Regions from separate parts of the Homo sapiens genome. Here region 2 is linked to region 1. A link means that fine-mapping ties the variant in region 1 to the expression of a gene that starts in the linked region. Tissue or cell type: whole blood. Region 1 holds a variant in brackets; the other region holds the start of a gene. Each region is shown on its reference strand, or each on the opposite one. Region 1 overlaps LPP (LIM domain containing preferred translocation partner in lipoma). Region 2 holds the start of SLC38A11 (solute carrier family 38 member 11).

Region 1 (5,388 bases):
GCCAAAGCACAAGTTTAAAAATTACAAGTTTCCACCAGCCTCATATCTCCCTTGGCTTATAATATTCAAGTGTTCATGGATACTGGGGCTTGCCATCCCCCGCCCCGTGTGTTAATGCAGCCCATGGAGGCTTCTCATAGAGACATAAACAGTGGGCTCCAGAAGGTCTCTATTTAAGAAACTGAGGTCTGGCAAGGTCACACATCGAGGAAATGGCAAAATCAAGACTAAAAGCCAGCTCTTTGGATTCTCAATTCCCTGCTCTTTCTGACACTTCACTCTTCCCTCCTGTCAGGTGAAGAGAGAAGCCAGATGGTTTGACAAATGGTTCTCGTTGCTGTCAAATCTGCCTTCTTTCTTTGCTCAGACAGACAGTTCTTACCTTCCCTTTTTCGGGGGACTGGCGGAGGTGGGGTGAGGAGAGAGGTAGGAAGGTGGATGAAGGAAAAAAAGAAGCATTTTATTGCTTCATTCTTTATGTAGTAGTGATGGCCAATAAGTTCTTTTTTTCTCTGGCAAGAAGCTAAGTAAAGGCAAGGAGTAATCGTCACCTTGAATTTAGAGCACATAGAGGCCTAGAAATGGCAGGCTGTATTAGGAGACAACATTGATTTCATATATATTCATCTCTGAAAAAACATGTTTAAGATGCCATATTCATAAATACTAATAAGGCTGTCTGATTCCAATTTTCAGGTGAGATTAGCATTTTATTGAGTATTTTATCTGTCAGATTCAATGCTGGATGTACCATCCTCCCAGGCTTATTAGCATAATTGCTGTGCTTAAGCAACAATAAAAAAATCAGCAGTAAAATAGCATTTAGTGCAGGCAATTTGTTATCAAAAGCTTTTACTTAAGGACAGCTCCAGCCTGCATTTATTAGCAAGTTAGGGTTATAATTTATTTTTATTTTGAAAAACAAAAGTGGGAGAAAGATTTGGCTTTTTTGTTTTGGAAATAATAGAGAAATTAGAAAGCATTGCCTCTTTGGAAAATTGTCCACATCCCTTCTTCCTTTGCCGAAAGCAGGCTGTGATGGGAATAGATTCCACTTGTGAGCGACATTGGCTCAGACAAAAAGTTGCTCTCCTTGGCATTGGAACAAACGGGTAGTAACGTCCCTTTATGCTTGTACACACATTTCCAAAACACTTTCAGATCTCGTTTGTTGCTCAAACCTCACACCAGTCCCGTGAGGTCTCCATTCTTAGAAATAGAAAACCAAGTTGAAATGACTTGTTCCAGATGAGGCAGTTGAGTGGCAAAGTGGAGGTGTAAAAACTAGTCTTCCAGCCTCCAGTCCTGTCTCAGCATTGCTCCCCTTCACGTCGTTGTCCAGAGCTCCTGGTGGAGCCTTGGCCTTTTCCATATGTACACGTGCACACACACACACATACACACAGATCTGTGTATCTACACCTGTCTATACACATACGTGCACACCTATGCACACACATCTATGCATACATACATACTTTTTCTTTTCCTAAAAGTTAATTATGTACTCTTGCATTTGTTTTTCATTTGATGTCCGGGTTGAAATACTTCTGCCACATGAACTTCTCTTGATGCCAAATAGCCTCTTAAAATCAATCTCTCTCTCTCTCTCCACCCCCCACCCCCCACCCCCACCCCCCCGCCCCTCTAGCTAGCAACTGTATCAGGAAAGCACTTGTGATTACCATCTGTTAAGGACCTGGAACAAAATAAATGATGTTATAAGTTTTTGTAGGGAAGATAGAGATAAGATTTTAAAATATGGAGATTGGGAAATCATTTTTCTTCCTTATTTCTTAGGAAATGTATCAGAAATAAATAACATTAAATTGATGCCTTTTAGTGGGTTTTAGGCTTCAATTATGGGTAATAATTTTCAAATTGAGAATAAAGTTTTGAGTGAAAATGGACAACTGAAGCTTCTAAGCTTTGAGAGGAGTTATTTTAGCATTTTAGATTTTCTTTTCTCAGTAAATTCAAACAAAGATCATACAATCATTGAATCATAGCACGTCTAAAATCCAAGGCTCTGTGCTGGCCACTGTGTGTTTTACAGACTAGCTCAGACGTGGCTATGAGCCCCAAGACATGTTTAAACTATTAGAGAGGATACTAACGATACATTAATAATGTTCTTGGTTTTGACAGAATATTCTAGAACAGGAACTCTAGTAGGATTTTTGCTTATGTTACATCATTGAAATTTAAATTCACTCAATTATTTATTGACTAAATATTGAGCACTTATGTGATGTTCACTCTTGTATTTTACATACATCATCTCATGTAATTTTTTAACAATCATATGAAATATGATCTGAGATAATAGTCAGTACTGTTATTATTGTTCTCATCATTAGATGAGGAAATTGAGACTAAGTAACTTGTCCAAGTCATTCAGCTGGTAAGTGGTAGAACTGCTGTGGTCTCCCTGTAAACACATGTTTTTTTCATGGTACCACTTGGCAAAAAACGAATAAGCAGGTACATACGTAGACAGATAGTGCTAATGATGATTAGAGAACCTCAGAACTCATGCAGAACCTGGATGTTTAGAGAGAAAATGGAACTTGAAATCAGACAGGTGTTCAAACCCTACTATGCTTCTTAGTGTTTGTAAAATCCTCAATTTAAGGACCTCTTAGGATTTCGGTGTCTTCCTGTGAATAAAGGATTATAAAATCTTTCTCTCAATATCATAAT[G/C]AGAATAAATTACAAAATGTATGTGAGTGTCTGCAAAGGTACCTAGTTCATGGTGGGAGTTCACCCTATCTTGGAAGTGCTCATAAACATGCAGGGTTTTTTTTTTGAGACGGAGTCTTACCCTATCGCCCAGGATGGAGTGCAGTGGCGCAACCTTGGCCTCCCGGGTTCAAGTGATTCTCCTTCCTCAGCCTCCCGAGTAGCTGGGACTATAGGCGCATGCCACCATGCCCGACTAATTTATTTTGTATTTTTAATAGAGACGAGGTTTCACCATGTTGGCCAAGCTGGTCTCGATCTCCTGACTTCAAGTGGTCTGACTGCCTTAGCCTCCCAAAGTGCTGGGATTACAGACGTGAGCCACCATGCCCGGTTCAACATGCAGTTTTGTGTACTGTTTAGGGACAGATGCCGAAGCCACATTGCTTGGGTTTGGATCCATCCTACCACATAATATCATGTGACCTTGGACAAACAACTTCACTTCTAGTGCTGTACTTTCTTCATCTATAAAATGGGCTTACATCATAGGGTCCTTGTGAGGATTAACAAAGTTAGAATGCGTAGAGCATGTAGAACAATGCTTGGCACACAGCATGCCGTGCTTCAGTGGTAGCACTTACTATTCCATTATACTACAGCCACCGAGAAGGACAGGTACACAGTGAATAGTTTAGGACTGTTCATGTTCCCGGCCTCTTCACTCCAAGAGCATCAGCAAGTTTAGTTTAGAACATAGGAGTTGTATTTACACAGCTACTAATGACCTTGGAAAAGTTCTTGGCTTCTCTGTCCTTGACCTTTGTTTATCTGAACGAGTAAACTTCAGATGACAGAGTGTGTGGGGAATGGAATGCATCCGCATCCTTGATAAGCTGCCCTAGTGGAATGTTGCCATGTGGCTACTGAGGGTCAATTCACTGGTCAAAGGTGGCCTGCTGGTTGGTATTTTTTCTGTGTCTTCCGGGCAAGTTCTGTCTTTCCTCAGTCTGCACATGCCTGGGTCTGTCCTCAGAGCTCTCTCCCATTTCCCTCTTCTCTAGAAAGCATTGATATAATGGGGCCACCTCTTCCTTGGACTGTTTCTGTAGCATCAGAAGGAGGTGGGTGGGAATTTGGCATACCACTTTTTGAAAGGTAATACATTCTAACATATGTATTTCACCCACCTTCAAAGAGTAAGAATACACTGAATGATACTTAATTTTAAAGATGTGTTGCTGAGGTGAACTCTAAGACGAACAATTCTTCAGAATCTTTTACTTTCTTGGGCTTCTTGTCCCAAACAACAATTATCTTTATAAAGCCTGTGTGTGTATGTGTGCGTGTGTGTTTGTGAAACTTCCTGGAATTGGTAGTGTTGATTTTGAGATGTTTCTTTGGCTTATTCAAAATATAAACAGAAAGGCTAAAGTGTTTTTCATGTCATTAAGAATGTCTTTATAAGAAAGGACATTGGCCGGGCGTGGTGGCTCTCGCCTGTAATCCCAGCACTTTGGCAGGCCCAGGCGGGTGGATCACGAGGTCAGGAGATCGAGACCATCCTGGCTAACACGGTGAAACCCCATCTCTACTAAAAATAGAAAGAAAAAAAAATTAGCCGGGCATGGTGGTGGGCGCCTGTAGTCCCAGCTACTCGGGAGGCTGAGGCAGGATAATGGTGTGAACCCAGGAGGCGGAGCTTGCAGTGAGCTGAGATCATGCCACTGCACTCCAGCCTGGGCGACAGAGCGAGACTCTGTCTCAAAAAAAAAAAAAAAAAAAGAGAAAGGACATTAAGATGATACCTTACCTTGTGTGGGGGGCTTGTAGCTTTCAAAACACTTAAGTACCCATTTTCTTATGTGTGCTTTATGACATCTCTATGATGTAGGCAAGGCAGGGTTTATCATTATTTCCCTTTTAGAAATGGTGGATCTGTGGTTCAGAGAAGTGAAATAAGTTTTCTTAAAGCAGTTCTGGATGCAAACCCAGAACATTTGACTCTAGGGTGCTTTCTGCTCCACCACCCTGATTTGATTGTAAGGAGGTAATTCTTACCAAGTACTGTCAGATTATATAGAGTTGTAATATATCTTAAAAATGCCCATTTTAATTTTCTTTAAACAGATCAGTTAAAAAGTTAACTGTGATTTGATACCATCTTGTTTCTCCCCAAGTTTAAACAGCAATGAGTCTCTAGGACCTTCGGTTAAACCAGCATGTGTTTTTCAAAAATCAAATGTCAAAGCATTTCGTGAACCTTGCTTTAATGAACAAGAGAAGTGAAGGTACAATTCCTTTTTTGCATGAGGTAATTAGGAAACAGGATGTGCAAACTTGCTATATGAATTTAAAGAGGAGCACTTCTACTGATGTACAAACTGGATGGGCATATTACAGAGGGTTTCATGCTGGTAGAAATTTTAAGTGAAATAAGTTCTCATTAAGCATATCAATTATTTTTGGACTGTGTGAAAACTTAATCTGTTTCATGAGTTGGATCTAAGGTGGTCAATACCTCTACACTCCAAAAAACAGAAGCATGACTCAAACATCTAGTTCTGATTGCAGAGTGCCTTTATCTGGAAGACTGGACATGTCGTCAGAATATAGAGCAAGAGGGATGGAATATGCTCTTAAGTTTCCTGATGACTTAAGGGTCTGCACTATACTTGCTTGGGAGGTGGGAAGGATTGAATTCTC
Region 2 (5,388 bases), not on the chromosome of region 1:
ACAAATAACGTTTACTTCAGGGTAAGAGTGACATAGCCCTGCAATATGTGGAAAGTCATTACCTCAAATCCTTCCTTACCTGCTAGCCAAGAAAGCAGAGAGGATAATAAGGAGCACAGAAGGGTTATGGAATATTAAGAAAGACAGACTCTGGAGTCAAAATGGGGCTACTATGTAGGAAAAAAATGAGAGAAAAATGAGAAGGCGAAAGTATTTTTTATAATGCTCAAAGGGGTACATAAATTATTTCTTATAATTTTGGGGGAAATTGACAACTTTAGATTATGGACAATAAAATATTTAAAACAAACACAGTTAACGTATTTCCAGTCAAAATTTTTATTCTCTGAAAAGTTTTCCCTTAAAGAAAAGAAAACAAGCTGCTGAGCAGTGGTACTGTTTAGCATTGCTGACACGGCTTAACTTAACACGTTCACATCAGGAATTAGCTCTAGAATTCTTCTAAGTACAGCTGCTCATACCTTCATGGTACATGGAGGTAGAATTGTAAACAAGTCTTTGTCCCTGTTTCCTTCTACTTTACCTCAGGTAACTCCATTTTATGTATCATTTGGAGAAAAAAAAAAGACTATCCATAGAAAAATGTAAAATCAAGAACCATATTAACTTGTGAAAAGTAAGAAAAGTAATTCAAGAGTAAGAAAAGTAACTCAATCCAGATAAATGTTTAATTTTCAGAAGGTGATGACAGAAACAAAAATGTTGCAACTTTATAAAACATTGTATTCTCAAAAAGTATTGCATTTTGCAGGATTTTGTTTTCTTCTTGTCTTTTCTGAGATAGAGTGTTTTCAGATACCAAAAAGAATAATAACCACTGAAAATATAGCTGCTTTTATTACTATAATGCAATGCACTTTTAACTTTTTTCAGTAAATTTCCCTTGCTTCTAATACAATGGAAAAATCTGAGCTATTTATTTATTTTAATTCTGATTGTATGGCTCCTTTATTAGGAAAATAATACGCATTTTCAATGAACAAATTTGCATTGTTGACTAAATAATATTTAAAATTAATATATTGTAATAATTTTGTACTTTAAAATTTAACACTGTATAGATAGGTAAAGAATGTATGAATTTAATTTTTCATAAGATTGGTATGTTTTCATATTAAACTTTTCACCTCCAACATTTACAAATATCTGGAAGTTTTATACTTCTAGAAAGTTAAAGAAAGATGATTCAAATAATGATGGACCCTTCAGTAAGTGGAAAAAGTACATTCGGTAACACTAGCAATCAACCACGCAGCCTACAGAAAAATGATTCACCACCACCCATATGCAGTTTCACCTTAATCTACCACATGTGGAAGATGCTCTCAACTGTGGAAACAGTGTGAATTACAGCCCCATCTTCAGCATAAAAGACATGCATACATACTGTTACACTAGAAAAAAAGGAAGCCTTTTATGGAAGAAAATTACCAATTTTCTTATTTAAGTCTTTTTTTCTTTAAAAATAATTAATGAACACTAGCAGCGTAGCGAGTCTTAAATTTTGCCCTTTCACTTAAAATTTAAACCAAAGCAAATACACTTACCTATTATACCAGATCCTATAATCGAGTTGACAACATTAAAAAGAGCAGCAGACTGACAGGTTTTCTCTTTATACTCATGTTCAGAAACAAGGGTTTCTCTGTCATCTAAATCTCTCTAATAGATAAAATAGCAATTATAAGCAAATACTAGTTCAGAAAATTAGAAAAGTAACAAATATGTAATGCAGGATACTAACACGATTTTCTAGTAATAATAAGTAATGTCACTAATGAAAATAAAATAAATGCCGGGATAACAGTAATAAAGAATAACAATAACAGCTAGTAATTCAACAGAGCTTGGTAAGCAAACTCCATCCTAAAATTTCCAGATTACAGCTGCCCCAGCTGCTAAGTACAGGATCTGTTAGGAATTCAGTGATGTGATTTTGTGAAATTAAAGTGCCTGCTAAGAAAAAAAAAAAAAAAAGTCAGATTAAGGCAAAACTTTTTGTCCCAGAGAACTTTTCGCGGTGCTAAACCAAGAGCCCAGGTGAAGGTAGGTGACCTGACCTGTTGCAAGGTGAATGAAATTTCCGGACAACTGGCTTCAGAACCTGCCTAGTCGCTAGTTTTACCTGCGGCGGGATGACAGGCTCCTGCCTCTGGTAGCCCATGGCTGAGCGGTGGTCCTCAGCAGGTGGAAGATGCTGGGGCTGGGTACGGATTCGCACCCGGCCAGCCTCCTCCGCCACCTCGCACACAGCCGAGGTCCGCGTGTAGCCGCAGAGCTGCAGGGAGCCAGTTCCACGGGCGCCCCCTGCTCCCTCGGCAGGCCGCGAGGGCTGCAGCCCCAAGATCTCTAGGCTGTGGCAGCCTGGGGCGCTTTTCCACCGGAGTTCGCCCAGACAAATGTATTTTTCCTCCGGAGACGGAGATGCTGCAGGATGTTTCTGATCCGGGCAGCCCTGTCTCCCCGCCTCCCCCCTTCACACCCCCGCCTCCCTGAGAGAACAGGGAGAGCTACTCTTCCCTGGAGCTGCAGAGGACAACTTGTTCCACCCACGCTGCCCTGCCCCGATCTCACAGAGTTATGACCGCCTCGTTGCAGTCCGTTCCTAAGTTAGCTTCTCCTTTGCTGGGGTCTGAAGCCCAGGTAAGAACGCAGAAGCACCCTTGGGCCCATGGGCCATCTTCCCTATTAGCACCTCCTCCTCGCTACCCCTCTTCAATGGCAGAGACGACGAGTGAAAATTTGGGACTTTTATTGTAAATGGAAATGGAAAGACTCATAAGAAAATGAATAGCAAAACAAAAAACTTTCCTAGGGTTTTAGCAAACTTGACTACTGAGCATGCTTTGGTCAAACGCTTCCTGGTAACTTTTAGAAAAAGGAGCGATAGAGAAAATGAAGGTGGATTGTTACTGCATTCAGGTAATGAACCTTGAAAAGGGAAAGAGGAGTACAAGGGTTTGGGAAAGGGGTGGCACCTACAGTGCCTGAGCTAGAAAGAATCTTCAATGACCACCTATTCAGTCCTCTTACATTACAGATGAAGCAACAAGCCCAGAGAGTATTCAATATCAGAGACAGAATGCATGAGACAACAGTTTCAGGGGCAATAAGAGCGGTGATATGCCATCATACTTAACAAATTCTGCCTTCCCTTGATATCCATAGGGGATTGGTTCTGGAACCCCTGCAGATACTGAAATCCAGGAATGCTCAGGTCCTTGATAGTAAACAGCATGGTATTTACATGTAACCTAGGCACATCCTCCAGCATACTTTAAATCATCTCTAGATTATTTATAATACCTAATACAATGTAAATGCTATTTACTTGTTGTTATACTGTATTGTTTAGGAAATAAGAAAAAAGTCCATATGTGTTCAGTATAGACACATCCATCCTAGCCCTAACTACATTTTTGATCTGGGATTGGTTTAATGCATGGATGCAGAAGTGGGGATATAGAGGCCAACTGTACCTAATTAAAGAGGTTCTGTTTCATACATGTTTACTTATAATTAAGAAAAAAAATTAAAAACCGTGGGAAAACAAAAGACTTATAAACTTTATATACACTCTGCCATCAAATGTTAACATGCTGTCATATTTTCTTCAAATTGTAAAAGTAAACACAATGTCACAATAGGAACCCCCTTGACCTTCTCCATTCCTTTCCCCAGGCCTTCAGCCCTGGAGTCATCGGTTCATCAAGTTAGTGTTATCTTTGCTATTCATACTTTGTATTTTAATCCGTTCATTTATAGCCATAAACAATATATAACATTGGCTTTTGTATTTTCAACATTTACAAAGATGGTGCCATATTGTACATGTTATTTTTCCACTGGCATTTTTGTTTTCAGCATGTATGATGTAGATATATGCAGATTTTTTTTTCATTTTATCTAACAGTTAAGTCAGCCTTCCCCTACTGAAAGATATTAAGGTTGTTTCTCGTTTTACACTCTTCCAGAGCATAAAAGTGACAATTTCTCTAGATGTAGAAGTGTTAGGTAGTAGGTCATGCACACTTTCAACTTCATTATCATTATTATTATTATTGAGATGGAGTTTCGCTTTTGTTGCCCAGGCTGGAGTGCAATGGTGTGACCTGGGCTTACTGTAACTTCTGCCTCCTGGGTTCAAATGATTCTCTTGCCTCAGCCTCAGGAGTAGCTGGGAATACAGGTGCCTGCCACCACGCCCGGCTAAGTTTTTGTATTTTTAGTAGAGATGGGGTTTCACCATGTTGGCCAGGCTGGTCTTGAACTCCTGACCTCAGGTGATCCACCCTCCTCGGCCTCCCAAAGTGCTGGGATTACAGGTGTGAGCCACTGTGCCTGGCCTTCATTAAATATTTTTGAATTGCTTTGCAAATTGATAACATGAATTTCACTTCTACCAACAGAGGTGAAATTCTTGTTTTTCTACATTGTCTGTAACACCAGGACTTACTTAATCTATTTTTTAAGTTTAATTGTTCTGCTGGATTTTTAAGTGGTGTATAATTATTGTATAGATTTGTATTTTATCCTAATTTACATTGAGGTGGAAGATCTTTTATATAGTAATTAAATATTTCCATTGTTCTGTTTGTGAATTTCATTTTTTTTTGCTCTTTTGATTTTGGTTGTGAATTTTTTCTATTGATTTGTAAGCATAATTTATATATTTGGGGTGGCAACCCTGTGTCAGTTATATGTTTTGTACATATCTTCTCCCATCTTCTCTCTTTCAAATTTTTTTTTAATTCTGTGAAGTTACAGTTTTAATATTAGTAATCTTAATCCTGATACAAGTGCATTGAGAAGGAAAAATTATAACCCTATTTTACTCAAAAATATATATATGCAAAAATTCCAAGGAAAATATTAGCAAATTGAATCTGTCTGTTCACGAAAAGTTAACAATATCATAAAAAAGTTGAATATAGTCCAACTATGAAAGGATGGCTTAGTTAACAAAAAGTTTATAAATATAATTTCCAACATTAGCAGGTAAGAAAAAGCCATGTTATTATTTCACTATATTCAGGAAAAACACTTGATAATGTTGAATTCTTGATTTTAAAAAAACTTTGTAAATCAAAAATATAATACAACTTCCTGATAGTGATAAACTATAGCAAAGTATTTTCGTTATGGGGAAGTTTTGGAAGCATTCCCATTTAATCAGAAGTGAAAAAAATCAATGATTGTGACTTTTATTTAACTTGATATTGGAGTTCCTAAAGTAATAAGAAATAAAAGAGAAATCAGAGGTATGAGAATTGGAAAGCTAAAAATAAAACTGTCATCATTTTTAGATGATAAAATTGTTTATATAGAAAAATCCAAAATAATCTAAGAGAAAAAAATTAGAAATAG

Evidence for each region. PIP is the estimated chance that this variant, and not a neighbour inherited with it, causes the effect. A credible set is the group of variants that fine-mapping cannot tell apart.
Region 2: SLC38A11 starts here. The variant in region 1 is the best candidate, but not a certain one, in a credible set for the expression of SLC38A11 in whole blood (TOPMed, PIP 0.57).

The regions. Positions count from the first base shown.
Region 1 is chr3:188,287,198-188,292,585 of GRCh38, forward strand. The region is part of intron 2 of LPP (LIM domain containing preferred translocation partner in lipoma); the gene reads left to right. Among named protein-coding and RNA genes, the nearest start is that of FLJ42393, 110 kb to the left of the region's middle. RefSeq lists an enhancer at 3,444-3,738 and a silencer at 3,444-3,738. The variant G/C (reference allele first, on the strand shown) is at 2,704.
Region 2 is chr2:164,953,063-164,958,450 of GRCh38, forward strand. SLC38A11 (solute carrier family 38 member 11) reads right to left here and starts at 2,463. Exons shown (of 12, transcript NM_001351537.2): 1 at 2,147-2,463; 2 at 1,569-1,683. The coding sequence starts at 2,185.